Linked DNA regions of Homo sapiens: regions 1, 3 and 4 are each linked to region 2. Evidence: fine-mapped expression QTL. A gene starts in region 2. Each other region holds a variant in brackets. All regions are shown on one strand. Distances are from middle to middle.

The links. PIP is the estimated chance that this variant, and not a neighbour inherited with it, causes the effect. A credible set is the group of variants that fine-mapping cannot tell apart.
Region 1: its variant is the best candidate, but not a certain one, in a credible set for the expression of TM2D3 in cerebellar hemisphere (GTEx, PIP 0.83).
Region 3: its variant is the best candidate, but not a certain one, in a credible set for the expression of TM2D3 in sun-exposed skin (GTEx, PIP 0.52).
Region 4: its variant is the best candidate, but not a certain one, in a credible set for the expression of TM2D3 in monocytes after LPS (Fairfax 2014, PIP 0.80).

The regions. Positions count from the first base shown.
Region 1 is chr15:101,688,908-101,697,016 of GRCh38, forward strand. All of the region lies in intron 10 of TARS3 (threonyl-tRNA synthetase 3), which reads right to left. Among named protein-coding and RNA genes, the nearest start is that of TARS3, 32 kb to the right of the region's middle. The variant C/T (reference allele first, on the strand shown) is at 4,693.
Region 2 is chr15:101,648,428-101,656,536 of GRCh38, forward strand. It overlaps TM2D3 (TM2 domain containing 3), which reads right to left and starts at 3,954. Exons shown (of 6, transcript NM_078474.3): 1 at 3,844-3,954; 2 at 3,269-3,346; 3 at 1,577-1,734. The coding sequence starts at 3,934. TARS3 (threonyl-tRNA synthetase 3) reads right to left here. Exons shown (of 19, transcript NM_152334.3): 19 at 5,169-6,303. The coding sequence ends at 6,155. RefSeq lists silencers at 3,542-4,101, 4,342-4,531 and enhancers at 4,192-4,251, 4,358-5,248.
Region 3 is chr15:101,679,301-101,687,409 of GRCh38, forward strand. It overlaps TARS3 (threonyl-tRNA synthetase 3), which reads right to left. Exons shown (of 19, transcript NM_152334.3): 11 at 6,596-6,762; 12 at 4,775-4,937. LOC124903609 (small nucleolar RNA U13) reads left to right here and starts at 4,215; the gene lies at 4,215-4,316. The variant C/T (reference allele first, on the strand shown) is at 4,187.
Region 4 is chr15:101,786,158-101,794,266 of GRCh38, forward strand. No RefSeq gene overlaps it. Among named protein-coding and RNA genes, the nearest start is that of OR4F6, 13 kb to the right of the region's middle. The variant T/C (reference allele first, on the strand shown) is at 3,196.

The DNA of each region.
Region 1 (8,109 bases), 40 kb after region 2:
TCAATGCCATTCAGATACCCAGTCCTATGTCTGTGGCTTTTTTCTCTCTGGAAACATTCAGGATATTTTCTTTATCCTTGGAGCTTTGGAATCTTTCGATAACATGTTTTGGTGCCCAAAGTATGTTTTCACCAAAAACTGAGACATGCTTGGGAGTTGAGATTGTCCATTGCCCATTATGGGCTCCCTTTACTATAGAACTGATAGACAGAAAAGGACTTACTACCCTTGATCCCAATTACTTGGGGAAAGACTTACTACCCTTGATCGCAATTACTGGGAGAAGTCGTATTGCTTACAATGGAGTAAGGAGGACTGTGTCTGGAATTCAGTGGGGAGCCTTTGATATCAACACATCTAGCAACAACCATCAGTGGGAGCCCTGAAACCCCACAAAGAGCATTACTAAAACCTTGGATCCTAAGGACAGACTGAGGCCATCCACTATTATTGGTTTAACTGTATTCTCCAAATAAGATATTTTGAAGTCCTAACTCCTAGTACTTCAGAATGTGTCCTTATTTGGAAGTAGGGTCTTTATAGAGGTAATCAAATTAAAATGAGATCATTAGGGTAGATCCTAATACTATATGGCTGGTCTCTTTATAAAAAGGAGAAATCTGGACACAGAGACAGATGCACACAAGGGGAAGACAATGTGAAGACACGCAGGGAGAACATCACGTGAAGACAGAGGATGGGAATGACGCTTCAACAAGCCAAGGAACACTAAAGATGACTGGCAACCAACAGTAGCTAGGAGAAGGCAAGGAAGGATTCCCCCATGGGTTTTAGAGGGAACACAGCCTCGTCAACACCTTGATTTCACACTTCTGGCCTCCAAAACTGGGAGATAATAAATTTCTGTTGTTTTAAGTCACCTAGTTTATGGTATTTTGTTATAATACCCTAGGAAACTAATGCACCCACCAAATAAAACAATGCCCATCTGGGGTGCCACCAGGATAAGGCGAATGTGGAATGAGTGATGGGAAAAGAAGGCTCTGATGTATCAGCTTGGCCCTAGCGTCCATCTACAGAGGCTGAAACAGTTACATTTAGTTATGACTTTTCCTTGCATTCTTACATGAAGGGCACTCATGGTGGCCAATGGCACGATTCAGATTTAGGTGAAACTGAAATGACATCACCACATGATGACACATCGGCTGATCGGAGTTTGTGGGAGGAAACCAATGTCCTCAGTGTCCTCCAAGCAAAAGGCAAGAATGTGCTGAGAGGCACAGGGGGTGAGCCAGGCTGGTTATTTTCCATTTGCCACTGCCTGTCTCGCCTCATCTTGGCCCATTTTCCTTCCTTCTCTGCCCTGCACTGTGTTCCCCAAAGCTGACTTCTGTGGGCTCCGCACAAGGCTTACTTGCTGTGATTATTATTTTTTTATTTTATAAAATATATACTTTTAAACACAATAGTATAATACAACATGCTTAAATTATGTTTCATGTGGAAAAAAATAAGGTGTATAAAGAAAACCTGAACATTTTCTCTCATTCCACCCTTTACTGCCCTGAGATAATGCTAATGGCCTGCTGTTCCTGTATTTCAACCCTCTCCTCCATGACTGTGCAAACACAAAACACACATACAGGATTTTGTTGTTTTTTGCTTTTACCTATAAAAAGAAAGGATACACTATACATTTACTCTGTCACTTCCAGTTTTCAATGGTGAGGTATACTGAACCCCCTTCAAGTTAGTATGCATAGATGTATTTTTGTACTAACTGCATAGTGCTTTATTGTGTGGACATGTCACAAAGTATTTAATCCTTCTACTATTGAGAAACATTAGACTTTTCATTTTTGAATACTACAAACTATTCTGCAGTAAAGTTTTTTTCTATGTGATTTTAATTGTATATTTTAGATTCCTTTCTAAGAATATTGCTAGGAGTGTGCATTTTTTTCACATTAATATTTGTTACCAGATTAGTAGCAATTTAAACTTTCTCTCTAAGTATATGATAACTGTTTCCTCACATTTCCTTCAGCAATGAAAATTATTTAATGGGTATCAATCTTTTTTTTTGAAATGGAGTCTCGCTCTGTCACACAGGCTGGAGTGAAGTGGCGTGATCTCAGCTCACTGCAAGCTTCGTCTCCTGGGTTCACACCATTCTCCTGCCTCAGCCTCCCGAGTAGCTGGGACTACAGGCGCCCACCACCACGCCTGGCTAATTTTTTTGCATTTTTAGTAGAGATGGGGTTTCACCGTATTAGCCAGGATGGTCTTGATCTCCTGACCTCATGATCCACCCGCCTCAGCCTCCCAAAGTGCTGGGATTACAGGCATGAGCCACTGCGCCCGGCCAATGGGTATCAGTCTTAGAACTATTACCTCAGTATTTATATATATATATATATATTTTTGAAACAGAGTGTTGCTCTCTTGCCCAGGCTGGAGTGCAGTGGCACAATCTTGGCTCACTGCAGCCTCTACCTCCTGGGTTCAAGCAATTCTCCTGCCTCAGCCTCCCAAGTAGCTGAGATCACAAATGTGCACCACTACGCCTGGCTAATTTTTGTATTTTTAGTAGACACAGGGTTTCACCATGTTGGCCAGGCTGGTCTCGAACTCCTGGCTTCAAGCGATCCACCCCTCTCAGCCTCCCAAAGTGCTGGGATTACAAGAGTGAGTCACTATGCCCAGCCTTTTAAATTTTCTTCAATAAATTTTATTTCACATATTTGAGATTCACAACATGATGTTATAGGACACAAATAGTAAAAGAGTTACCTTTTTTGTGTGTGTGACAAGAGCAGTTAAAATCTAATTACTTAACAAAACTCCCTGATAAATATAATTTTGTTAACTTTAGTCCTCATGTTCTGTATTAGATCTCTGGCCTTGTTGATCCTAGATATCTATTTTGTATCCTTTGATCTATATCCCCCCATTTCTTCCCCCCAACCCCTGACCATGGTAAGCACTGTTTAATTCTCTGTGTATGTACCTGAGCTCTCTCCTTTTTTTAGATTCATCAGCTCCCCTGGTTCTCAGGCCTCTGCACTCAGGCGAGAATTACATCTCCAACTTTCTTGGACCCTCAGATCATGGGATTTCTTGGCCTCCATAATCACACAAGCCAATTCCTCATAATAAATCTCTTCTTTTCTATGTATCTTGTTGGTTCTGTTTCTGTGGAGAATCCTGACATGCCAATATACTTTCCATATGGTTTCTGATTGGGTCTGACCAATGGGAAGTTCCAAAGGATTCACAGGGTAGTGGAAGAGAGAGGTCTGGATATTTCTTTCCCTGGTTCTCCCTGCTGTGGGTTTACTCAGGTTCTGGCTGTGTTCCACAGTTACAGCTTCTGTTGTGTGGCCTCTCCTCCACGGCTCCAAGCTCTCTGTGGGTTCTGGTATTACTACTCCATCTCCTCACTTCTCTCCTCCACGGCTCCAAGCTCTCTGTGGGTTCTGGTATTACTACTCCATCTCCTCACTTCTCTCCTCCACGGCTCCAAGCTCTCTGTGGGTTCTGGTATTACTACTCCATCTCCTCACTTCTCTCCTCCACGGCTCCAAGCTCTCTGTGGGTTCTGGTATTACTACTCCATCTCCTCACTTCTCTCCTCCACGGCTCCAAGCTCTCTGTGGGTTCTGGTATTACTACTCCATCTCCTCACTTCTCTCCTCCATGGCTCCAAGCTCTCTGTGGGTTCTGGTATTACTACTCCATCTCCTCACTTCTCTCCTCCATGGCTCCAAGCTCTCTGTGGGTTCTAGTATTACTACTCCATCTCCTCACTTCTGCAGGCCTAGTGATGGAGGGGAAGGGATTCTTGCTATTGGTAATCCCTGGGCGCTCTATCATCCCTTGTTAGTTACCTTAGCCAGGCCCATATCTCCATAAATACTTCCTTCACTAGACTCTCTTCAGTTAAACCCTTGGAGTGCATCTTTCAGGACTCTCCCTGCAGAAGAGCTGAATGTTTTGAGGCCTGCCATGTTCACAAAGACAAGCTTGGTCTAGAAATTCACTCCATCTAAGGTTGTGTGAAGAGGAAGCAAAAATTCCCCAAGTGGGTTATTAATATAACAACAAGAGAAGCCACTCCCCTCCCCACTCCAGGGTTTCAAGACATGCATCAACAAGTCAGGCAGATTCCAGGAAATGCAAAAGGTGTGACTGAGATGAGCTTTACAAAAGCAACCCTCATGCACAGCTGGTGGGAATGCAAAACAGTAGTCATTTTGGAAAATAGTTTGGCATTTTCTTATAAACTTAAATTTACCATATCTATTCTCACACTGCTAATAAAGACAAACCCAAGACTGGGTAATTTATGAAGGAAAGAGGTTTAATGGACTCACAGTTCAGCATGGCTGGTGGGGGGGCCTCACAATCACGGTGGAAGGCAAAGGAGAAGCAAAGGCACATCTTAAATGGCAGCAGGCAAGGGACTTTGTGCGGGGGAACTCCCTTTTATAAAATCATCAGATCTCAAGAGACTTATTCACCACCACAAGAACAGTATGGGGGAAACCACCCCCACGATTCAATTATCTCCGCCTGGCCCCACCCCTGACCCTTGGGGATTACTACAATTCAAGGTGAGATTTGGGTGTGGACACAGCCAAACCATATCACCATATGACCCTGAAATCACACTCCTAGGTATTTACTCTAGTAAAATGAAAACCTATGTTCATACAAAAAACTGTA[C/T]ATGAATGACAATAGCAGTTTTCATAACTGCCAAAAGCTGAAAACAACCCAAATGCCCCTCAACTGCAGGATGGATCTGAAGCAGTGGTATGTTCATATGATGGAATACTGCCCAGGGACAAAAGCAGAGGCCCGCTGGGGACACTCAACTCGGATGCATCTCCAGGGTGTTATGCTGGGTGAAAGCGGTCAGTCTCTAAAGGTTTTATAAAAGTATGATTCCATTTATATGCCAATATTTTAGGGGTAGAGAAAAAATCAGCCGTTCCCTGAGGTCAGGGCTGGGGAGGATTTGATTTTAAAAGGGTAGCATGAGGGAGTTTTGAGGGGTGACGGAACTGTTCTGTATCTTGATTGCTGAGGTGATAACACAGTTCTGCATGTTATCAAAAAGGCGTACATTTTACTGCATGACAATTAAAAAAGTTAATTTAAAAAAAGGTAAGAAAAGTACAGAATCAGCTGACAGATATTTTCCAGAATGCAGGGAAAAAAAAATTCAAGGAGACTAACAAAAAGATCTATTTATTCACTATCAGTTGTCCACACAGTCAGTAACTAATATACAAACAAAAGTTCACTTGCCTTTACTTAAACCTAAGTGGAAGTCATTTTACCTGAGTCAAAAACTCAGAAATCCTGAAATTTCCCTCAGTGGGAGCAGTGTGCACACCCAGCCCATCCTGGCCTCCTACATCCCTTCCACAGAAATGCAGCAGTTCCAGTTCTGAGGAAAAGGATGCTTCCTGGTAGAATGCGGCCATATATTCCATCGTGCTCAGCACCATGTATCCCCAGCACTCTGGCTACTACTGACTGGTCTAGGACTCAGCACCAAGGCAAAGGCTACTGATATTGGACCAGACCATGGCCCCTGAGGCAGCCCAGCTGTGACTGAGAGTCTGTCCCACAAGCACACCCTCTACTGGCTGGTGACTAACAGAACCAACTGGAACCTCAGGGAGGACCTTGAGGCACATGGAAGAGGGCAGAGAGGAAAAAAGACACAGGCAGATAGACTGAAAAATATCAAGACCCAACAGTATTCTTTTCTCCAGCAACGTACTTTAAATATAGAAACAGAGGCAGAAAATAAAAGGATAGGAAAAGATATATCATGCAAACACTAATGTAAGAAAGCTAGCTTGCCTATGTCAACACCAAAGGAGACTTTTAAAAAGATAGTTTTATTACAAAAGGTCAAATAGCCTATGAACCCATTTATATGTGACACCTAGAAATAGTCAATTTCATAGCGACAGAAACTAGAGTGGTGGTTACCAGAGGCTGGGGGAGGCAGGCATGGAAATTAGTGTTTAGTGGGTACAGAGATTAAGTGTAGGATGATGACAAAGTCCTGGCGAGTTTCGGATTTGCAACGTGGAAAGAGTTCTGGAGATGGACCATGACAGTTGCATAATAACATGAATGTACTTAGTGAGAATGAATTGCATACTTAAAAATAGTTAAAATGGTAAATTTTTATATTATGTGTATTTTACCACAAAATGGCTTGAGGTAAAATTTACACGCCATAAAATTCACCAATTTTAAGTGTACAATTCAGTGACTGTTGACAAATGTATACAGTCATGCGACTTCTGCCACAGTCAAGATATAGAACATTTCCACCCTCCAGGAAGTTCCCTCCTGACCCCCTGGAGTCAATCCCCTCTCCCCACCCACTGGACTCCTGATCATCTTTCTGTCACTATAGTTTTGGCATTTCTGAAATGTCATATAATGGAATGGTGCCTTATGCATTCTCTGACTTATCTGGCTTAGTACGATGCTTTCGAGGTTCCTCCTTCATGTGTATATCAGTATCTCACTGCTTGTAAATGCTGAGTTGTATTCCACAGCATGGACTTTCCACATTATGTTTATCTTTTCACAAGCTGAATCTGGGGTTGTTTCTGGTTCTGTGCTATTATAAGTAACGCTTCTATGAACATCCAAATACAAGTCTCAGTGTAGATGCGGGCATATGTTTTTATTTATCTTGGGATAATTAGAAGTGGGGGCTGGCGTGGTGGCTCACGTCTGTAATTCCAACACTTTGGGAGGCTGAGGCGGGCAAATCACCTGAGGTTGGGAGTTTGAGACCAGCCTGACCAACATGGAGAAACCCCATCTGTACTAAAAATACAAAAATATTAGCTGGGTGTGGTGGTGCATGCCTATAATCCCAGCTACTTGGGAGGCTGAGGCAGGAGAATCACTTGAACCTGGGAGGCAGAGGTTGTGGTGAGCTGAGATCATGCCATTGCACTCCAGCCTGGGCGACAAGGGCAAAACTCCATCTTAGGAAAAAAATAAAATAAAAAAATAAAAGGCCGGGCGCGGTGGTGGCTCATGCCTATAATCCCAGCACTTTGGGAGGCCGAGGTGGGTGGATCACGAGGTCAGGAGATTGAGACCATCCTGGCTAACACGGTCTCTGCTAAAAATACAAAAAAATTAGCCAGGCATGGTGGTGGCAGGCGCCTGTAGTCCCAGCTACTTGGGAGGCTGAGGCAGGAGAATGCATGAGTCCAGGAGGCGGAGCTTGCAGTGAGCTGAGATCGCGTCACGGCACTCCAGCCTGGGCAACAGAGCGAGACTTTGTCTCAAAAAAAAAAAAAAAAAAAAAAAAAAAAAAGAAGTGGGGCACGTTTATCTTTACAGGAAATGCCAAACTGCTACAAAGTAGTTCTACCATTTTACGTTCCTACCAGCAGTAAGTGTTATACTTGCTTCATATTCTTGCCAATGCCTGATGTTTTTAGTCTTTCTATGATGGGAAGGGGACATTCTTCAATCAATAACCCTGGCATGAGACTCTACCTGAATACAGTCATGTAAGGGACCCAATGCGAGAACCACCCACAGGAGCCTAAAATTTGGAACTATGAAAGACAGTAATGATGAAATGGCAGTTTTAAACTATTAAGTTCTGGGATACTTTGCTATGTTGCAATAGCCATCCAGAACAGAATTTTGCACTGGATGTAGGTACTGCTATAACTGAGAAATAAAAATAAAATCCTAAGCTCCCCAACTGACTGAACAGACACCCTCTTGGCCAAAGGACCCCAGAGAAACCTTAAAAACTGAGTTACTGGCAGTGACAAGAGGTTGGACATGCCTAATTATACCCACTCTGTCACTAACAACCATTAGGCTTTCTTTCCTAAGAGTTAATCAGAAACAAGCCCTTTTGAAAGACTTGTTCCACCACTGATTTACACAACTGAGCAGCATTTCTTCCTGTTAAAAGACCACTCACCATGCACTGGTTCTGGTTGGTTTATAAAGGCTGCACATGGGATGCCTCCGTGTCCTCCATTTGACCTTTTGGTTATACAGCCTAATTTAAATGCATTGTCTCCACCCCAAAGTGAACAAGGGATGCATGTAACATGCATGTTTGCTTAC
Region 2 (8,109 bases):
GCCTATTTTCAGTGATGTGCTTAAAACACACTTTTTTTAATGGTTTTTTAAAAAGTAGGTGACACATGTACATGGAACACATGTCAAGACACAACAGGAGAGTGAGAAGTGAGCCGGCCTCGTCTGGCCCAGCCGCCGGGAGCCCCTGCCCTCCCCAGGCCAAGTACGCTCTGTGCTTCCAGAGAGAGCTGATTCTACACATAGGCACATTTATGTCACCTACATTTAATGTTCCCCAATACTTTCACTTAATTTTGGACATCTATCAGTACATTACCTCTAGAGCTGCCTAGTTCTTTTTAATGGCTACAAGGTGTTTATTCTATTACACGTGTACCATAAATTAAGCAGTTCTTAGACATTTCACTTCTTTTGAATCTTTTGCTTTAATGAGCAATGCAGCTAAAAAATAAGCACACTTATCTGCATCCATGTATAATGATATCTATAACATAAATTCCTACATGTACAACTACGAGCTCAACGATTGTGTGCATGTGTAAGTTTAACAGATATGGCAAATCGCCTACAAGAGGTTGATCAATTTGATTACCTATTAATAAGATATGAGCATCTGACCCTTATACTCTCACAAACTCAGAGTTAATCAAATTAAAAAAAAATTGCCAATCTAAGGGTTAAAAATGTATTAATTAAATACTATGAGAAAACTTATATGTTTTTCATGTTATATATCTATTTGTATTTCCTTTCCTATGAACCATCTGCTCATGTCCTAACACTGTTTTTCTACAAGACTGTCATCTTTTCCGTGTGGGTTTTAGGAAGTGTTTATATATTACTGATATTACTGTATTATTTGTCACATATTCTAGAAACGCTTTTTCCTAGTTTGCCATGTCTTTTGCCTTTATGCTTTTTTTTTTAGGTCATGCAGAAATCTCCAATTTTTAGGAGTCAAATGTATCAATTCTTTATTTTATGGCTTCTAAACTTTATTTCATACTTAGAAAAATATTCTCCATTTTGGGATTATAACAGCAACTATCTGGTGTTTTCTGTGGTACTTCAGGGTTTCATTTTTCACATTACATCTTTGGACTATCTGGAATTTATTCTGGATAAGACAGGCGTTCCACTTAATTTTGTTCTAGAGAGCTACCAGGCATTCCGGCATTTACTGAATCCATCTTCTCACCACAGATAAGCACTGGCCCTTCAAAAGCTCATCTATGGCAGAAAGACACTGCCACCCCCTCTGTACACTAGCTGTCACTATTGAGAACACAGAATCCATCTGAACGAATTAGACTTGCTTCAGATATGCTAGTAGACTGAGATCTTCTCCAGTCCTACAAAGCAACATTTCTGTCAAGTGCATTTCCAGCAGACATCAACTGGCTTGACAGTTATCATTATAACTAAAACAGTAGTGAGCTGATATGGAAAGGTCTATTGGGTTTTTTAATTTATTTCTGCTTACATACTCAAAAGGGAAATCATAAAAGAATATAAAAATTCTTCAGAATTTCTTCCCAATAATCAAGTCTGAATTGTTCTTCTAACTTAAAGTTTACAATGAATTTATTTAGAATAAGTAAGCTGCAGTACTTACAACACAGGTAACAGATGGTTTCACTGCACAGTCAAAAGTGACAGGCTTCCCATAGGTACAGGAGAAATTTGTTGTGCAGTCTATACAGTCTGCAGGAAGCCTGCTACACAAACCATTGCTCGGACACTTCATCACATAAGGTGGGATTTCAGTACTTTCTGTGAGAGGCAAGAGAGAAGCTTATTCTCCTATAATACTGATTCGAATAACAGAGAACAATCTTCTAAGGTTAAGAGACGTGATCATTAGCAAGTAGACACTGCACTGGAAGGGAAGAAGCATGGGACTGGAGTCAGAGACACCTGCAATTAAAGCAGAATTCTGCCCACGGCCAGCTGTGGGACCTGGTGAGCACCACACTTGTAAAACATTACTTCATTCCTGCCTCCCACGTGGCCGTGAAAACTAAAGGTGCTCATATACAAATAATGTATAGAAAATTCTGGGTATACATTAAGGGCTTAAAAAAAAGACTATCATTTTGTAAGTTGAAAAAAAACTTACAGTAGGGTTTTGCAAAATCACAGAGGAAGTCTGTGGCAAAACTGGAACTAGAACCCAAATCTCTCCATTTCCAATCCCGTGTTCTTTTCATCTGAATTCACTAATTCAGAAATGAAGCCACTGACATCCTCAGGGCATCAACTTTAAAATGTCATTATTTCACACTGGTACTTCGATAAGCCACATTTGCTAATATAATATTTACAGTTTTACGCTACCAAAGTTCAAAACAGTTCTCTACTTTAATAACATCTTCAGTAAGCTGCAACTTATTTCCAACCAACCTAATGAGTGTGCAATGTATTTTTACCAACTGAAAGGATCAAAATTGCAAGTATTCCTGAAAAGAAGGGCTTTCAAAAGCCTGCAAGAGTTAAGAACTCTTGTGCTTTCTCTAAAAAGTAATCTGAGTTTAAAATTCAAGTGCACTGCTGTTTTTTACATCCAAATAAGAATCAGTAAAATATCTCTGCCAGTTTCAATTCACTGAAGTAATGTCACTTTAAAGTGATGAAATTATAGTCAGAGCCTCCACCTAGCAAAACACACTAATGCTTGTTTAAAACTGGTCCTACTTTACTCACTGTATTAAGGAACAATTCTACAAAATACTCTTTTTGATCCCGTGACTATGTGGCTGGAAGGTGGACACTTAGAATCACAAAGCAGAAATGACTTTAGGTCGTCAGACCAACCCCACCGCTTTAAAGATGAGGACCAAGGTCCAAAGAGGATAAATAATTTGTTCAAGATCCCAGTAGCAAAACCAGATCTAGATTTCAAGTCTCCATCAGTCCCGCTGTAATCCTTCCATTTCCACAGTCCTGAGGGAGCCTTTAATATTCCAACATCAGGAACAGGGTTTTAGCAGTAGAGGAAATTTGCTGAAGGGAAAGAAGCACGGACTGAAGGTTATTTTGATGGATGAAGTGGAAAAATAATAGAAATAAGGTGACAAATGAGCGTGGGATTGGAAAAAGAGAGGAGGCAGAAACGTCAAAAGGTATAAATACGAAGACTATCTACTGAAAATGGCTGTGTATCTACCCTTAATTCACATAATCTAAAATACAATAAATATTCAAAAATGGAAAGTGACTTCGTATACTAAAGGGAATTTTTATAAAAACAAAGAGAAACTACTAGAGATAACTACATGTATTTACTAGAATAGAAAACGTCTAGTACCTGCTGCCCTGGGAACTACTGTGAATGTGCGTGTTGGGCCCGGATCCTTTATTGACTGAGCCAGCGCCTGCGATTGCTCTAAATTTAAGGATCGTACAATTAGAGAAACACGTTATCCCGGGACAAGAAAACCTTATTTTGTGTGGTTAACACGGCGGGTCTACACCAGGCCAATAAGCTGCTCATGAAAACCTCACGGCTGGTCAGCCAGAAAACACAAAGCTTAGGGACGAAACGTCAACAGAGTAGACATCAGTTCAGGTCAGCCGGCAACGAGGGACCGAAGGATGACATCGCGCTCCAGTTCCGCCTCCCCGGCCCAGCCCCCAAGCGCTCCATCTCCGTGCCAGGGCTCCGCAGCCGCGATGGCGGGCTCGGTGTCGCCGGAGCGGAGGGGCGGCCTCGGGCCGGGCGGCCAGGGCGCCAGACTCCAGATGCAGCGACAAGCGGCCCGGAGCCCGGCACTCGGCCTCCTCCCCGCGTCAGCGTCCGCCCGTGGGCCCGGCCTCCTCGCAGCTCCCGGGGCCCTGCTGCCACTCAGCCCCACCCGGCGCTGAACCCAGCCTTTGACTCACCACCGCCCGACAGAATGCAGAACTGCGAGAGGAAGAGCAGCACGCGACACAAGGCGCGGAGGCCCCTCAGCGGGAGCACCCCTCCCGCCATCTTGCCAGCGCCTGCGCACTTCCGGGCCGGGGGGCGGGGCGCGCCTGGGAGCCGGAGCGTGAACTGGACGCAGGCGCGCTGCGACTCCTGGCGGCCGGCGTTTGCGCTTTCGCTGTCCTCGCGCGGGTCGCGGGTTTTCTTCCGGTTGAGCCTTCTGGGAGGTCCCCGAGGAGGATGCGAGCCTGGGAGGTTGTTCCATTTCCACGCGCCCCTCACGCCCTTGGACGAGGCCCTCACCCCTGGTTCCACTGCAGGAGACCTGTTAAAGGTCATCCGTGGACCGAAATGCGCGCCCGAAGCAACCAAGAGCAGAGGCGGGCGAACGCGGGAGGCTGGCCGCCCCAGTGTGTGGTCGGATGTTGTGTGCTGGATCTCGTGCGAAGGTTCCGAGGACACTATCGCGTGGCGTTTCATCCTAAAGACACTTATTTACAGTCGGGGAAGCGGCCCCGGGACGACGAGGGCCCGAGGGACCCCTCCCCTGGGGCCGGCGCTCAGGCCTGCCGCGGCTTTCACTTCTGGCCGGCCTCTTGAAGATACGCAGCACTTCCAGAAAGTTCCTCTCAGGCCTGGAGAAGCAGGATGGCCCGAGGCGCTGGGAAGTGAGGGGAGGGTCCAGAGCCCAGCCCTGCCTGGGGAAGGTCGCGGCCGTCTGGGGAGCCGCGCTCAGGCCCCAGCTTGCGGAGACCCTTGCCGGTTTCTGTCACAGCACACCTGGGAGAAAGCGCTGGTGACAGGTGCTCTCCTCCCACCCACGTGCTTCGGGATCGTTCATTCCGCGGTCTTCTGACTACCACCCCCTCACGTGCATGTTTGCTGAATGACTTTTTAAAAAATACATGGAAAAGTGCCGGCACATAAGCCCTGAATGTTAGCTTTAAAAATCGTATCACGGCCGGGGGCGGTGAATCACGTCTGTAATCCCAGCACTTTGGGAGGCCCAGGCGGGCGGATCACGAGGTTAGGAAATCGAAACCATCCTGGCTAACAACACGGTGAAACCCTGTCTCTACTAAAAATACAAAAAAATTAGCCAGGCGTGGAGGCACGCGCCTGTGGTCCCAGCTACTGGGGAAGCTGAGGCAGGAGAATCGCCTAAACCCGGGAAGCGGAGGTTGTAGTGAGCCGAGATCGCGCCACTGCACTCCAGCCTGGGTGACAGAGCGAGACTCCGTCTCAAAAAATAAATAATAAAAATCATATCACACAATCTGCACCTTATACTACTACACAAGCCTGATATATATTGTTTTGTTTGCCAACTGTTTCACTGTTCACATCCCTCAGGAAGTTAACTAAATGATCAGTATATTGAAAAGAGATTATTTCTTACATTTCTTTTGAATTTCACAGCATATCGCAAAATAAACAATACTTCTTGTTTGGTAGCTGAATTCTCTATTGACATAATGCCATTTTAATTCAGTTCTGAGCACGTAGAGCATTCCTCTCTTTAAAATCTGAAATCCATTTCAGTACATAAATCCATGGAATGTCATCCCATCAAAAAAGTAACAACTCTAGGTGAGCGGCTTAGTGGTGGTAGAAGCCCACAGCTGAAACGCTGGAAACACTGATGCAATTCATTTGGGAATTTATTTTTTTCTAAAGCGGAACAAAACCTAATTATGAATAAGAAACATTTAAATGGCAACTCTTAACCTATAGTGCAAACACCAGATTCCACAAAACTGAATTCCTTTGTCAGTAATCCAATATTTAGCAGTAGCTGCTGCTTTTGTGGTTGTTGGTTAGTTAAAATTAAGTAATGATTCCAGTTTAGAAGATAAAGTTTCAGTGTGAATTTTAGTAGAAGTCATAAAAATACCTGAGACATATTAGAAAATAAGATTTTCCCTCCTATTTAAAAAAAACTCTGCAGACTTTTATTTGAAGCCCATCTTTTGAAAATCACTAACATTTCATAATCATTTCCTAGTGTTTTGTTTCACTTTCTCGATGAATAATATTTCCCCATTTAAGTTTCTCAAGGCATTGATTGCTGGAAAATTTCCCACGTGCCCTCTAAACGTCCCCCGTGGACATGAGTAAATTAAACTTCGTGCATGTCAGCTACACGTTCATCGTCTCCTTTCTCAGCTGAGGCCATGAGTGGACCCATCAGTGGCTCCAAAGTCGTAGAAGTACTAACATGTTAAGAAAAATACATTTTTAAGGGTCAAAACAAAGTTACACAGAAGCAAATATCAGGGAAGGACTTCAAAAGGCCTCCTCAGCATTGAGTGTCCGTGTCTTCCTGAGATTCTTCAGTTTATCAATGGCAGAAGTTACTAAAATCTCTCCATGAATTTTGTTGTCTCTTGTTCGCACGTTTACAGCATTATCTATCTTTTCCTTTTCTCCAACCACTGCAGAAAAGAAAGGTAAAGAAATGTATTTTAAATCAGCAATTTACCAAACATTAAGTCAGCAGTCCCATGACATGTTTTTATCAAGTTTTTCTTCACTAATATTAAATATCATCTAATGAGCATTTGGTTCATCCTCTGATAGTTAAGTTTCTTGAGGGAAGCAATGACTTCTGATCCCATCTCTCTATTGTCCACCTGAGAGAACAGCTCTTGTGGTCCTGGGGTGCAGATGAGAGGGGGGAGCTCTTACAGACTCACACTGACTGCACCTGGCACTAGGGCGCAAATGAGAGCGGGGAGCTCTTACAGGCTCACAGTGACCCCACCTGGCACTAGGGCGCAAATGAGAGCGGGGAGCTCTTACAGGCTCACACTGACCCCACCTGGCACTAGGGTGCAAATGAGAGCGGGGAGCTCTTACAGGCTCACACTGACTCCACCTGGCACTAGGGCGCAAATGAGAGCGGGGAGCTCTTACAGGCTCACACTGACCCCACCTGGCACTAGGGTGCAAATGAGAGGGGGGAGCTCTTACAGGCTCACAGTGACTCCACCTGGCACTAGGGCGCAGATGAGAGGGGGGAGCTCTTACAGGCTCACACTGACCCCACCTGGCACTAGGGTGCAAATGAGAGGGGGGAGCTCTTACAGGCTCACAGTGACTCCACCTGGCACTAGGGCGCAAATGAGAGCGGGGAGCTCTTACAGGCTCACAGTGACTCCACCTGGCACTAGGGCGCAAATGAGAGCGGGGAGCTCTTACAGGCTCACACTGACCCCACCTGGCACTAGGGCGCAAATGAGAGCGGGGAGCTCTTACAGACTCACAGTGACTCCACCTGGCACTAGGGCGCAAATGAGAGCGGGGAGCTCTTACAGGCTCACAGTGACTCCACCTGGCACTAGGGCGCAAATGAGAGCGGGGAGCTCTTACAGACTCACAGTGACTCCACCTGGCACTAGGGTGCAAATGAGAGCGGGGAGCTCTTACAGGCTCACACTGACCCCACCTGGCACTAGGGTGCAGATGAGAGTGGGGAGCTCTTACAGGCTCACACTGACCCCACCTGGCACTAGGGTGCAGATGAGAGCGGGGAGCTCTTACAGGCTCACGCTGACTCCACCTGGCATACCTGATGAGCCAAGGAGTGGACACCAGACCCATGCGAGCCAGCCAGAACTTTCTGGAATGTGGGTAAAAAGTTTGTTCTCTCTAGTGACCCATATTGTGAGATGATGCAGGAATCTACAGCCATGCTTCTTGCCACACAGAAGGAAGAAACCGGTCTGCAGATAAGTGGAATAAGGTAGATATTCAAGAGAAGCATAAAGAACCAGAGCAAGACAGGAACGAGAAATGGGGAGAAATACTCCTGGTGAGGGTTGAGCTCCTGATTGCTCTTCTAGTGGTTTGGCTATTTAATTCTACCTTTCATGTCATGGGATACTCCAAGACCCTTCCAACAAATGCTGTCTTTGTCTAAACCAAGTTGAGATTTCTGCCACCATAAGAAGCCTGACTGAAACAGCACAATACCTACTCTGGTGTCAAACATTATCATTGAAACACTGTCAATAGAACAATGCTATGCATATTTATTTCGCCTTCTACAGACTCTCAACTTACAAGAAATAGCAATACTGTGCCTGCAGTTATATCAGTGTTAGTTTCTCTTAATTTTGGAATCATTTTTAAAGCCTAAATTTTAGATTCTGCATCTAATTAGTCATATGCTAAAAGGACATTTTACTTTTCATCTAAATCTTTTCCTTTAGATCATTTTAAATTTGGGATCTTTTCTT
Region 3 (8,109 bases), 31 kb after region 2:
CAGGCTCTGTTCTTTTCTCTTTCAGTCTGTTTTCTCTATGTTTTTCAGATTGTGTAATTTCTGTTCTTGTCATTATGTCTGTCTTCACCATTCTGCTCATGAATCTATTCACTGAATATTATATTTCTCAGTTCAAAATTTCCATTTGGTTCTTCTTTATATCTTCTATTTCTTTCCTGAGATTTTCTGTTTCTTCGCTGACTTTGTAATTTTTGTTTGTTTCAAGTGTGTTAGTAATTGCTCATTAGTTAGTAATTGCATTTTTATGGTGGTTGCTTTAAAATCTCTGGCAGATAATTGTAACATCTTTGTTATTTCAGTGTTACCGTTCATAGATTGTCTTTTTAAATTCAAGTTGAGATTTTTCTTGTTCTTAGCATGATGAGTGATTTTCAATTTCTTAAACCTGGACATTTTCGGTTTTATAGTAAGCCTCTGGATCTTAAATGTTGTTTTAGCTGACTTCCACTGACACTCTTCCAGCAGAGGGAGGACAGTACTGGACAGTTACTGGCAAGTGGGAAAAGCAGTCCAAGCTCCTTTTAGAAAGGAAGTAAGGGGAGAGGAGCTCCTCGTTACTTCTGGGTTGCACAGGTGTTCTAGCCCCCCTCCATGGCCTTTACTGCACACAGAAAGCATGGCCTCATGACCAATTGGCAGTGAGAAAGTCTTATCTTTCCACTAGACGTCTTCTGACACTACTCAAGCAGGACTGGAAGAGGCACCTCATTACTTCCAGGGGAGGGCAAAAGTCCAGGCTCCCCACATAGTCTTCACTGACACTGCTGGGTTGGGGGAGGGGGATGGGATCTTGTTAATGCAGGAGTAAAATTCCCAGCTTCCTAATAAGCCTTCTCTTACCCATTCCAACAGGTATTGAGGTACTTATTTAGAGCCTGCTGAGAGTTAAAATATAAGCTTCTCAATCAGCCTTAGCTGGCATATAAAGGGCCACAGTTTTTTCTGTGGTGTCTGGTTGAAATAGAGTAGATATTGTCTAAAACTTTTCTATCTTTCTAGGCTGCCCCTTTCCTAGTCCTTTGGCTACAGCAAGCAGACTTCTGTTGGCCTGTTTTATCGATGCCTGTTGGCATCTGTTGGTTGCCAAGTCTGGAATATATGTGGCAAAACAAAACAAAACAAAAACACCTAAGGAACTCACTACCATGTTGTTTCTTAGGTCCTGATGTCCATAGCCAGTGTGCCCTTTTTCTCAACACCTTTCAGAGTCTCGTGTTTGTTTTATATGTAATATCCAAGGTTTTTACTTGTTCTTAGAGGGAAGGAAAGGGAAAGCACCTGCTTCATCTTCCCCAAAGCAGGTCTTTTTTGCTCATTGTTTAACTGGGTTGTCTGTTTTCTTATTGAGGTTTGAATATTTGTTAAGTATTCTGGATTCAAGTCCTTTATTTGATATATGCCTCACAAATATTTTCTCCCAGTCTGTAACCTGTCTTTCCTGTCTATGATCAGTATTTTTTGAAGAGCAGAAGTTTTAAATTTTGAGGAATCCAATTTATCAACTTTTTTCTTTTATGGATTGCCCTTTGGTGTCATATCTGAGAAATCATCACCTATCACCTAATTACAAAGATTTTCCCCAATTTTTATTCTAGAAGTTTTGTATTTTTATGTTTGACATTTAGGCCTGTGATTCATCTTAATTTTTTCATATGGTATGAGGTATGAATCCTCATACCTCATGTTTTGCATATGGATACACAATCATTCCAGCATCATTTGTTGAACATATTACCTTTCCTCCATTTTATTGCCTTCGAATCTTAATTAAAAATCAGTTGTCCATATATTTGTGTCTATTTCTAGACTCTGTTTTGCTGATTTATCTATCTAGACCAGCATGATTACTGTAGTTTCTCATAATTCTTGAAACCAAGCATAGTGACTCTTCCAAATTTGTTTTTATCTTTCAAAGTTCTTTTGGCTATTCTAGGTTCTTGTGCTTTCTATACGAATTTTAGAATCAGCATGTCAACTCTTACAGGGAAAAAAGGTCTGCTTGGGTATTGACTGGGATTGTACTGACTTTATAGATCAACTTGGGGATAACTGATATTTTAATAATATTTAGTCTTCCAAACCACGAACAAGGTATATTTCATTTATTTAGGCCTTCTTTAAATTTATCTCAGCAATGTTTTAAAGTTTTCACTGTATAGGTTGTGTATGTATGTATTACTCAGCTTGGGCTGCCAGAACAAAAATCCATAGGCTGTGTGGCTTAAATAAGAATCATTTATTCTTCACAGTTCTGCAGGCTGGGAAATCCAAGATCAATGTGCCAGCTGATTCAGTTCCCTGGTGAGGGCTTTCTTCCTAGTTTGCCAACGGCTGACTTCTCACTGTGTCCTCACACGGCAGAGAGAATCAGAAAGCCTCTGGCATCTCCTTAAAAGGGCACTAATCGTATCATGAGGGTTCCATCTTCATAATCTCATCTACACCTAATTACTTCCCAAAAGCCCCATTTCCAAACACCATCACATTGGGGGTTAGGACTTCAACATATAAATTTTGGGAGTCACAATTCAGTCCATAGCAACATATTTGTCAGTCTTATCCCAAAGTACTATCATATGTTTTGAGATGCTATTACAAATTGTTTCTTATTTGCAATTTCCAAGGGTTTATTATTATGAAATGCATATACAATTCATTTTTGTATGTTGATATTCCATACTACAATTTTTCTAAATTCACCTTACTTCTAATAGCTTTCTGTAGATTCCATCTGATCTCTACATAGATGATCATGTCATTTACAAGAGTTTTAATTCTTTCCAATCTAGGTGTTTTTTATTTCTCTTTCTTAACTTACTGCATCAGAAAGAACCTGCAGTACAATGATCAGAGAAGTAATGAGATAATCCTTACCTAATATCTGATTTTAAGAGTAAAGCATTCAGACTCTCACTATTAAGTATGAGGTTAGCTGTAGGTTTTTCATAGAGGCCTTTTATCAGGTTAAGAAAGTTCCCTTCCATTCCTAGTTTTGAGAGTTTTTATGAGATATGGATGTAGAATTTTGCCAAATACTTTTCCCTGCATCTACTGAGAAGATAATATGCTTTTTGTCTTTTTGTTTGTTTTCTTTTTTTTAGTTTGTGAATGTGGGGAATTACAATGATTCATTTTCTAATGTTAAACTACCTTTTCATTCCTGGGATTCAGTCCATTTGATTAAGATGTCCTTTTTAAAAAATTACTAGATTTGACTTAGTAAAATGTTGTTTAAATTTTTTGATTTTATGTTCATGAGAGATGTTCAGTAGTTTTCTTTTAATTTCTTTGTCTTATTTTTCTATCACAGCAATATTAGCTTCATTAGCTTCATGAGGTGGTGAAGATTTCCTCCTCTTCAATTTTCTGGAAGAGTATCTCTAGATTGGTATTATTCCTTCTTTAATGTTTGGTAGAATTCACCAGTAAAACCATCTTGGCCTGGAGTTTTCTGTGTAGGAAGGTTTTTAACTATCAATTCAATTTCTGTAGTAGACACAGGGCTATTCAGATGATCTACTTCTTCTTGAGTAAAGTTTAATAGTTTTGTCTTTCAAAGATTTATCCATTTCATCTAAGCTGTCAAATGTATGAGCATAAAGTTATTCATAAAACTGCCTTATCTTTTTAACAGCTACAGAATCTGTAGTGATGACATCTGTCTCATTCCTGACATTTTTATTTGTCTTTTTTCCCTCATCAGTCTGACTAAAGGTTTATCAATTTTATTGATCTTCTCAGAGAACCAGCTTTTGTTTTATTTTTACTCTTTATTTTCTATTTCAGTGATTTCTGCTCTGCTCTTTCTTATTTTCTTTCTTTTGCTTCCATTACATTGGGTGTAATTTGTTCTTCTTTTTCTATCTTAAGTAAAAGCTAAGTCATTGATTTTTCTTTTCTAATGCAGGTATTCAGTGCTATAAACATCCCTCTACCACTTAAATCGCATCCTACAAATTTTGATGTGTTTTTATTTCATTTGTTATATAAAATTGTCTAATTTTCCTTTGGATTTTGTGTTATCTATTTTTAATTCTATTGTGGTCAGTTAGGATTAGGGTTAAACATTAGGGTTAATTAAACATTTTATTTTAATTGCATCCCTTTCAACTCACTGAGACTTGTTTTATGGTCCAGAATATGGTCTATTTTAGTAAATATTCTA[C/T]GTGCAATTTCAAAGAACAAATACTCTGAGCTTTTTGTAGTTCATAAGCGTGATGACTGGGTGTACACACATGTGTAAGATGTACCTCCCTCACACCTCGGTACAACATTGGCATATTACCCACCCCACATGAAGCACATTGGATACAACACTGGCACATTACCCATCCAACATGAAACCAAAGAATGTATATTCTGCTGTTGTTATATAAACATCAATTAGGTCAAATTGTTTGACAGTGAAACTTTGCATGGCAATTTTAACTTGAATTAACACAAAAACTTGAAAAAGTAAATTTTAAGTTCTAGGCGATACTGAAAAACAAAACATCCAGAATTCCACCAAATCCCTTAAAATACTCCACTTAATGGAATTTAGGTTAATAAAATCACTGAAGGAATATATTTCATGTCAAGAGATGATTAATCTATTGACCTAATTTAGAGAATCACAGCAGGTTAGAGCTGAATGAATCTCAGAGACTAGACCAAACGTCTATGTTTCAGTAACTCTGAAAGAATACAAGATGTGTGCGGGGCATCACACTCAATTTGTGACCACACTGCTTCACTCTGTGTTATTGTTTACCTGCTCCACTGTGCAAAAAATGTGAGCATCGTCCTGCTGGAAGCGCCTCACTCTGGTCAAGCCGCTGAGAGTCCCCGACAGTTCATTTCTATGCAGAACTCCAAAATCAGCAAATCTAATAGGCATTTCCCTCCAAGATCGTGGACGATGGGCAAACATTAGACTAGAAAAGATGTGGTAACACACAGCTTTTACACAGCACAGAAATATTAAATAATTATCTAAATATAAAGAAATTACAATTAAGCCTCAAGATTCATAAACTCCTTATTCTAGTTCTTAGATCACCAGGTTAAAAAAAAAATTCTTCCACAAATTAGTGAACCTTGCATTTACATCACTGCAGCACTCTGAGAAAGATGCTTGTCTATTATCTCTTCCCAGAAATGCTGTTCCCTCCCCTTATCCACACAGTGAATCACCATTTACTGTTTATGATTCATTTCAAAGGCTACTTCTTAAATGAAGCCCTCCTAGACATTTCCCAGACAGGGCTAGGCAGTTTCTCCTCACGTTCCTGGAACACCTCAAACATGCCATCATTATGGCACTGGTCTTTTTATAACAGATTGTCTACATGCATGGCCCTGCCCACTCTGCTCATGAGTTCCATGAGGGAATGGTTTGTGTCTTAATCACCTCTGCACTTCTAGCTCCAAGCACAAAAAGCACTCAACTATGTTCTCTGTTGAATGAAAGACTTCTCTCCTGCAGAAAGCACTCCTAGCTTCCATATCCCATTGCCTCTAAGCCACCGTGGTCTTGCTTTCTTATTCTGAGGTGTAAAAAGACAAACTTAAATTCTCTACTTTCATTATAAAGTACGAGGCTATAATTTTAAAGGATGCCTTTGAGAAGATGAGTTAAGAAATTGTTAACACAAGTGTTTTACAATGCAAAACACTAGCATAGCTTCTACCTTCTGTTTAGAAAGAGAGGATACAGAATGTTTACATACCGGTGTTCCTAAAATTAAAGTTATATATATTTTTTACATGACATCATCATAAAGTTAAATTTCTTCTCATCTTCACTTAAAAGGGCAAAGAGCTTTCTTCAGTGTTCAGTTACCGGTTTTAATAATTATCTTCTAGGTAAATTTACTTGAAACTATGTATGTTGATAATACAAAAACTACAATTGTTGGGATTGTTTTTTGTGGACAATTATGCCTATTCAGTTTCAGTTGTACAATATGTTTGTCTTACAAGGTTGAATTTGCATACCAACTTTATGATAATTAGTCTTTCATAGAATCAAAGACAGCATTGATTGTAAAATGTATCTTCATTTTATGTGCTACAAAGAAAGAAAATAACCTATTAATTAAATTATGATATAATGCTAAGATGCCACCAACTATAAGATGCATTTCAACTTCAGAAATGTTGAAATGTGGAAGAAAAATGGTATCTTGGAATCAGTGAAATCCAGAAACCCATTGATTATGACCTCATTGATCTTGTTATAATCCACCCAAACAGTATGAAAGAACTAAATATTCTGCAAATATGAACATGTGAAGTGCATTACTATAAGAAAGACAAATATTATAAAACTTATAAAATTGACACATAACATTATCCTTTAATCAGCACAAAAAAATGCAATGGTTACCAGCTAACATCCCATACCTGCCAAAGATCAAATATATTTTCAAAAGTAAATCCATTCTCCGGAATGAAACAACTTAGTAAAAATTAGTAATCACCACTCTTCAGATTAAAGGGACTCTTTCATTCCACAAAGCATTAAAAGATAATTGTGACGAAGCGTGCTATGTGCTCTCATGAAAAGGTCTGCTTCGCTTTTAATACTCACCAGTGCCCTGGACAATTCATGGGTTTGAGGGCAAAAGTGTCCTTTTCAATCTCAAAGGTAAACATGTTCTCGCTGTAATGCTGCCAGTGGCCTGAGGCTTCCCAGAGTTTACTGTTGTACATATTGGGAGAGAGCACCTCCGTGAAGTCCCGTTTGTGATATTCCTCCTTCAAGATACATGCATTCAACATTAAAATCTGCTAGGGCAGATCACAATTCCATGCAAAGTAACACTATGAGCAAATATTTTCAAATTGGGCTCATGTCCTATATTAATTCATGATTAATGTACCCTCAGTTTTAGGTGTGGTGGTTTCTGGATCTTGGAAGAAAGATTTACATATGCTTAGTATAATTTCTATTGAGTATATTTATTTTATAGCATATAACAGTATATAGTATATAATGTTTTAGTTCTTTGAAAAGTAGTAATTGAAATACAATATATATAGAAACTCACTGTAACTACTCCAAAGTCCTTCTAAACAGGTTTTTTCCTATTAAGAGGCAGAAAAAATTTATAATTTAATAAGCCTGAATGCCATGTTGCATGTTATAATTTTGATTTATTTAGTTTTAAACAGAAATAAGAATTTTAGTGTATAACGATTTAAGTAGTTGAAATTATTAAGTCATGAGCTGGCCTCTCTCCCTCCCTACCTATTAACAGCTTCCCTAATTGAATTACTGGAGACAGGAGAAGAGAGTTTTTTTCCAAGCAAAGTTTTAACTTTATTTAAACTTTCTTTAAAAACAAAACAATTAGGTGATCTTTGTTGGGTAAATATTTTATGTGCACTTTCCAAAAATGCATATTCTGCTGTTGTTTTACAAATGTCAATTAGGTCAAATTGTTTTGACAGTAATTTGATAGGGACCCTTTGCATGACAGTTTTAATTTGGATGAACACAAAAAGCTGAATAAGTAAGAATTCTGAGAATCCTTAGATTCTCAACATTTGTAAACCACTTAATGGACATCTGGCCCAAATCTAGAATGCCATGTATACTTTGAGCACATTTGAAAAACTGTTTTCACAGCTAAAAAAACATAAAACATAACATTTTAAGATTACTAACAATGGTTTTATACAACTGAAAGGAATGTTGTCTGTTATTCTTCAGCAGGGCATCCTGGCAGTCCACGGTAGACAGCTTAGGTCTCGGCCATTCAGTGAGCTGCTTTACCTATCCTTTGTTTTTACTAAATTAGAAAACCTTAACAGGTAGGGTGTGGTGGCTCACGCCTGTAATCCCAGCACTTTGGGAGGCCAAGGTAAGTGCATCACCTGAGGTCAGGAGTTTGAGACCAGCCTGGCTAACATGATGAAACCCCATCTCCACTAAAAATACAAAAATTAGCCAGGCGTGGTGGCACACACCTGTAATCCCAGCTACTCAGGAGGCTGAAGCAGGAGAATCGCTTGAACCCAGGAGGCAGAGGTTGCAGTGAGCCAAGGTCACGCCATTGCACTCCAGCCTGGGCAACAAAGCTAGACTCCATCTCAAAAAAA
Region 4 (8,109 bases), 140 kb after region 2:
GTACTCTTTGGGGATTTACTTCATAACAATAAATGGATAAACAGAACACCAAGGAGAACTGTTTATATTTAACCATGAACATGTATGTATACAATACATGCATACGCATAGAAAGTATAAAATAAATAAATTCATCAAAGCATTAAGCATTGTCTCAGTATGGTGGATCTAGGGAGTGCTTTGTAGACCGCCCTCTTTGCCTATCCTTTCTAATTTCACAACGGTAAATACGTATACTTTTGCAATATAAAATTTCAAAAAATGTTAACTCAAATTAAGCTGCATGTAGCCCTTCGGTCTGTCCTACATTTGTATGATGCTCCAGAGTGCTCAAATAACACTTCATAAAAAAATTTATTTCTTCAAAAACTTACTTTTGTGAAGATTTCTGTGAATGTCTATGTGTTAGATATTCACTATGTGAACATCAAAGTGAAGAAGCTCAGGCATTTGCATGCTTGACTCATAAGGAGACTCGAAATGTGGAGCTGGAGGGTGAAATAAGGGCTCACCTGTTCCCAGACTTGCCACAATAGGTGGTTCTGTTTTTACAGAAAGTGAGTGATGCAGAAATATTTTGACAGCTCATTTGTTCAATCATTGTGTTCCTTTGGACTTAGATTCCAGATAATTGGGACCCTCTTAGCTGGTGGCTAGCATGAATGAAGTATTGTTGTAAAAATGCGAACGAAGGTACATATATGAATGGAAGCGTATTTTGCCCAGAAACCATCGGTTTGGGATTCTGAAAGATCAGGAATGAAATGCTAGGCCCATAACTTCCTCCAGTGTGATCTTGGACATATTACTCCTTCTGTATTTATTTTAGATTTTTCAACCTTAAAATGAGTACAATAATATCATCTTAATCTTTCCTTTCACTTCTATCCGCTTCTCTTTCTAGGAATATTTATTGGAAGTTTGTTCTCTTTCCACTTGGCTGGCTGCTTTAAGATACAAGTTGAGTAAAACCAGTGCTACTCCTGGTCTGCTGGGAATTTCAGGCTAGTAAGGTTGTTATGAAGATTAAATAAGATAACATAAGTAAGTTAGTTCATGTGCAGTGTTTCAATAAGTATTGAGACCCTTTCTTCTTCTGAAAGGTTTATGAATCTCTTAGGGCATTCTATTCAGAAGATCCAAATACCTCTTGCCAGTTGCCCAAATAGAACAACTTGTTCAGAGCCTAGGAGAGCAGGGTCAATAGATGAATACTTTACAACACCTAAGAAGTTTAACAGACACTTAATTCTGGTCTTTAAATGACTTTATTTTGTTGCTTATTTGTAGATGACTATATAGAGTGACAAAAAAGTGGAATACACTATCCGAGCTATAATAAGATAGATCTTGTAAGTGTAAGCATTTTAGACATCAACTCAGTATAAATTTTGACTTGAATGGAAATGTTATGTCTGAGGGTTCCCAGTTTTGCTAATGACACACTTAATTGACAATATAATTGTGACACTGAAGAGTGTGAAATTAAAATCTTAAGAAGTATGCAAACTAATAGCATGATTCTCTGTGTGAACAAAGCGGTTTAACTGAATAGTACCTTATTTATGATTGGCTTTTCATACCTAGATAATTCTGTCTGGTATCTAATGGAAAAACTGATCTAAAAATGATTAACGACCATTTGCCACTTTAATAAAAATTGTCAAAAACAGATATTGATGATATTTCTAAAAATTATTAAGGGGAATAGAGCAGCATTTCACAACTAGATTCCAAGGATTGTGGTCTGGACAGCACAAACCACATATTTTCATCCATTGTCTAGATCTTTATTAGGTCTAATGCATTTATAATATTTTTGCAAGCTTATATTTTTAATTATTGCTAGTACCTCAATGCCCAATACAGATGATACAACTAACCAGTAACCAATAAGATACAGACTTTGAGTTTTGTGTTTCAGGAGTTATGGGTTGCAGTGTTTTTATTTATACTCGGTGACACTGTTTCTCTTCAGCTCCAGTGTAGTGATTGAAGCCTTCTACCAGGCAGAGGACTAGGTGACTAAGTATGTATGGCATGGGCCGCAGAATAGACAAGACTTAGTCCTGTGCTTTTGGACTAATGGTCTGGTGTGCTGACCAAATAAGCATTTCAACACAAGTGATTCTCATCAGTATCATGATGTGTTCTCTTAACAGATTGAGAATTTTATTTTTCAAATAGGAAATGGCTAATTTATTTTAAACTATGTATCATATTATACTTTCAAATTCCAAACAGTATCTTAAAATGATATGAATAATTAAGTTTATAATTTAGCTTTAAAAAGCTATGTAAATTTTATATTGACACTGATGGGATAGAAATCTACATTGGAACTTTTAATTCCTTTATGTTTTTATAGTGTCATCATAATACAATAAAATTACTGCTCTATTGCATTGGAAGTATATGCTCATTAAGGAAATGGCCAGGAAAAAAATATTCACGTACTCAGGGAAATTTTAACATGAGATATTTTGCCTTAGTGTGTATATCACTTGAACTTCCTTTGAACTCTGTGCACTACTTGCTATTTATGACAAAGAAAGCCATTGCTCACAAAGTATTGGGTTTGCCTTTGAAGCGGTATCAGGAGATCATTGACAAAAGGCAGGGCTGAGATTAGATGTTGAGGGTTATTGCCTTGCTATAGTCCCAAAGCTATGTGAAATGTCAGCTAATTGAAAATGGTAATTATTCTAAATAACAGCATAAACTGTTTCTTTCTAGGATATGTGTTGCTTTCAAATTAATAGCCATTGATCTGTGTTTTTTTTTTTTTTTTTTTTTTTTCACCATCCTTCTCTGTCCTTTTGTCAAATTATCTAGCCATCGGTCCTTGGGACAAAACCCGTTGCACCATTTATATTGACCATGGTTTAATGAGTGACCTGGTCTTCCTGTTTGCATAGATTGTAATAGGCCCACCCACCTGAGAGTCTGTCAGCCAGACTGAGATGTGTAACCTCTATGTATAACTTAGTTTCTAAGTGGAAAGACTTTAAAATGGAAACCAAGTAATTGTGTTACAGTGGCCATTTGCATTTATTTCAGATACTGGTCGGGAGAAGTCCTATTAATCACAGTCATAATAGATCTTCAAATTATGACCTACTGAGCAAGGTCATCCTGTATGAGATGAATAATATATATTCAAAATGTTCAGCTTGCTTCTAATGGGCAGTACTT[T/C]GTACCAAATGGTTTTGAGGGAAATACGTACAGTATAATTTTTCAGACAAAGAATTAAAATTCCTAGTTGTGATGGTTAAAAAAAAAACCCTCTAAAGTAGAAATTAGAAATACATATTCTCCATAGCTATAAAATGAGCCACAAGTACACTTTGATTCTGTAAAATTGAGTTACTTTGGAAAATATTTCAGAGTAACCTAATCCCAAATCAAGGCTCTCTATTGGAATTGGTAGACAACCCAAAAATACTTGGGCTTGATCTGTTTCAACAAAGTGAAGAAGACAGGAAGAGTATGAGAAATTATTCAAATATATTCAGAAAAAATATCTGCTGAGGTTGGAAAACTAATATACAGTGATTACAGAAAAGTTATACTCCATCCGTAGATCAAGCCTTGCCACAAAATCATAAAACCAATTTTCTTTTTGAGTGTGAAGGAAATGAGTACCTGTCTTTCTAATTGTAGTAAAAATAGTACCATTAGTGCTTCCTCTAACTTTTTTTTTTTTTGAGATGGAGTCTCGCTCTGTCACCCAGGCTGGAGTGCAGTGTCACGATCTCGGCTCACTGCAAGCTCTGCCTCCTGAGTTCATGCCTTTCTCCTGCCTCAGCCTCCCGAGTAGCTGGGACTACAGGTGCCTGCCACTGCGCCCGGCTAATTTTTTGTGTTTTTAGTAAAGACGGGGTTTCACTGTGTTAGCCAGGATGGTCTCAATCTCCTGACCTCGTGATCTGCCCGCCTCAGCCTCCCAAAGTGCTAGGATTACAGGTGTGAGCCACCATGCCAGGCCAACTTTACTTTTAACTAGTAAATTGTAACCAGGAAGTATACTCACAAACTGTGGAGCAAGGACACAGGAACAAATGTAGCATTGAAAATAAACAGTAGAAGATAGTGAATCTGACACATTTAATAATGAGCAAATGCTGTTGTGTTCCACAATATTTAGGCACACCTATGCAAAAAATCACTTCAGGAAACCACGGCTTTACATCTTAGGAAGCAAAAGTGGAGGGAAAGGGTTGGCAGTGAAGAACAACTTGTACACATGCCTTGTTAAAGCAATTCCACATAATCTTATTCCATTTCAAACCAAGACTGTTTAGAATCTTACGTCCTGTTGCCACAAGAACTGAGCTCAATACTTTAGAATCCTAAGCCCAATATCTGAGAGTGGTGAAGGCATTTTTGGAAGAACCCAGGCATGTATCTGTAGGACCTTAGTAAACCTCCTGTTTTGCATAATTCTCTCCTGCCTCCCCAGTCTGTCTGAGGGCTATGCTTTCTTCTTCCCTCTCCCAAGTGAAGGTAATTGACTGATGCTTAATTGTTATTTCTTTCTAAAATTGATAACATAAAATGAGGGCATTAGGTTTCTTCCTTGAAAATCTTCTGTTTTTATAATAAAAGTAGCTGTAGCCAAAACCTGCCCCATGTAAAAAAGTATCTGCTAACAATTACAGAAATTGTCATATGCATCTGTTTTTTGAACTCAGTGAAGTCCCAGAAATCTTTTTAGTGCTCTGATACCTTGTAATAAAGGACCTCTAGAGGTTACTGAAATGAAAGCATGCAGAGTTACTGTAGCGGTATGTTGTTACAGGGGAAAAGAAAACCAGCAGCCATTCACTGTACAGCCTACACTGCTGTAACCGGTGTTGCCCAGTAAACTATCTGGCATGCAAAATGCTAAGTATTCAAAGTACCTGGCATTCATGATCATTGTGATAGCAAACTGTTGACATTTGGTTTATTTCCCAAAGCCGGACCATTCGTACTTCTCTTAAATATTTTGGCTTTAGAGCTTTGTTGTTGATACAGATAATGTATCTCCTTGTTGCCCTGTTTCCCTTCTTGCTGCCCTGCATTTAGCTGCAATTTGCTTTAATGGAGTCATCCCCATGATCATGGAGAAATTGTTCAGTATTTTGATGTTTAGCTTTCATCTCATTTTGGATCGTTTATCTTGATAATTAACATTATTGCATGAAGACCCAGTTGAGAAAAAATATTCTGTAGGAAATTCATTCTTTAATAGTTAATATAAGCCTTCACATGCTGAGTGTCAAAACCTGCAATTCCTCTTGATCCTTAAAAGGCTTGTAAATAAAGACAGTTCAGTTGAAGAAACTATACTGTTAAAGTCAAATATTTTTGGAAATCAGCTTTGAGTCTTGGGGATTTAGAAATTTACGTAAATGATCTGACTCTCAGCAAGCTCTAAATAAACAATAACTATTTGATGGGGTAATTGAAAGAGAGCCTCCCATCAAGTGATCACTATCTGCAAAAGTGATAATTCACTAAAAACTTATGCCTCACTTTGTAATAACAATATCACAGTGGGAATTTTTAATCAATAAACTGGAATATAATCAGATTGGGGAATATGTAAATCTATATCAGTCCAGTGAAACCTACCAGCAGGGAGAGAAAAGATAAAAATGTAAAAATCAGATTGAATTTTGGGGGAAAGCTTAAAAGAAATGCAGTTATGCCTCGGCTGCCATACTCAGCATGGGACATAAAGAGCCCCACCACAGGGCTTGAATTTACAGGAGTCTGTCCAGCACAGCTTTATCCGACACTGAAGCTTCCTAACAAACAGAAAGAAATCTTACACTCTTGCTTGTTAGTATTTAATACATGCATTATGTGCTTTTTAATTTTTTGGTCCTACTAAGGAGTAGCTGATAGCGCTGTTTTGAAGGCATATCTACTGTGCCTCTGACTAGCAATAGGAAACCGGTTAAGTTATTCAACCTCTCTACATTTCAGTTTCAGGAAATGAAGTGGACAAAGAAGATCATCATTAGGCAATATGTACCTCCAATATTCTGTATTATGTGGAGATATCAAGTCCGTATGTGATTACACAAATCATAGTCCAAAAGAGTTCAGAATGAGACATATAGAATTGAAAGTCCTATTTATACAGATACTGGTTAAAGCCCAGGGATTAGATGGGTTTAAAATGCTTTACCGGCCGGGCGCGGTGGCTCACGCCTGTAATCCCAGCACTTTGGGAGGCCGAGGCGGGCGGATCACGAGGTCAGGAGATCGAGACCATCCCGGCTAAAACGGTGAAACCCCGTCTCTACTAAAAATACAAAAAATTAGCCGGGCGTAGTGGCGGGCGCCTGTAGTCCCAGCTACTTGGGAGGCTGAGGCAGGAGAATGGCGTGAACCCGGGAGGCGGAGCTTGCAGTGAGCCGAGATCGCGCCACTGCACTCCAGCCTGGGCGAAAGAGCAAGACTCCGTCTCAAAAAAAAAAAAAAAAAAAAAAAAAATGCTTTACCTCTATATAGAAAGGAGTACAGGACCAGGAAAGGGCCCAGGGGCATACCATGATTGAGCCGAGGAGACAGTAAGAGAGTTTCAGTGACAAAGGAGATGCAAGGAGACGATGGGGTTTCTGAAACCAGGAGAAGAAAGCCTTCATCATAGAAGCAAGTGATAAACTTCACTGAACACTTCTAAGACATTTCGGACAAGAATAGAAGAGCGACCTTTGGATTTCACTGCACGTAGCTTAACAAACGTTCATAAAGGCAGTGAAAACGGAAGCTCGGTTAGGGTGGTCTTAGGAGAGAATCCAGGTGATGACGTAGAGAATGCGACTATAGATGGCTCTCTCTAGAAGTTTTACTTTTAAGGGTAGCAGAGAACTAGAGTAGAGCTGCAGACATAGTTCCCCCTCCTCCCTCTCCTCCATCTCCAGTTTCTTCTTCTTTCCATGAGTGTAACAGAATGAAATTTAGGGCATAATCCTGTAGAAGGTAAGAAATTAACGATGCAGGAAAGAGATTGGATAATTGTCCAAAATAAATAAGTTCTCAGATGATGCAAGGCAGTGGGCTCTAGCACACAAAGGGGCTGACATCTGATAGGAATTTAGTTGTTTTATCCACATAACAGTTATTTTTTCAGAGAAAAATCGAATTGTGAAAATATAGCTGAAAACCAAACATTACCCCTATGTGTGTGGTAACTTGTGATGTAAAATGCATTTCTCAATAAAGGTCCTGGTCATAAATTTTAAAAGTAAAATACCTTGAGGGAGCTACAGTTAGAGGACAGCAGGATGAAGGATAATCATCAGAAAGAATACAAAGTGGGCCAGGCATGGTGGTTCATGCCTGTAAACCCAGAGCTTTAGGAGGTGTTGTTGGGAGGATCACCTGAGATCAGGAGTTTGAGACCAGCCTGGGCAACCCAGACCCCCATCTCTACAAAAATAATAATTAAAAAAAGACTACAGAGTAGAAAAAGCAGAGTGAAACAGAATCTTCAATACAAACAGTAGGGGGATTTTAGCAAAGAGTAGCTGACTTAGATGGTGCTAAGATTTGTATGGAGTTCAGTGCTGAGAAGTCTTTTTAACAAGTGATTTAAATGGGAATATTGCCTTGTTTACATAGCTCAAATAAAATGCAGTATAATGTGCAGAAAACAAAAAAAAACAGTAAAAAGCTTAAATAATCTTTATTCTTAGGACAATGTTTTTCAAATAAGGATTATGGCTCACTATTTGGTCATAACATAAAATACATTTCTTATTGTGGATGGCTCCAAGAAAAAGAAAACCCAAGTTTAAGAAGGCTCACCAATAGAGAGTTTACCTATGTCATATAAGAAGTCCCAGTTATACATCCACTAGTAATAGCTCCATGGCCAGGTACATGCTAGTATTTGCATTTTGGAACGGTTTTTCTCTCCCGTTTGTTGTCTCTTGGTCACAAGATGACAGATTATCCCAGGCCTCACGTTTACATTCGAAGACTAAAAACCACTGTGGTGAGTAGGAAATGCCCCTCCCCAGAGATGACTCCCAAGCCCTCATTCCCAGACCTGTGACTGTGTTGCCTTACATTGCAGATGTACTCCGCAGATGTGATTAAATTCAGGAG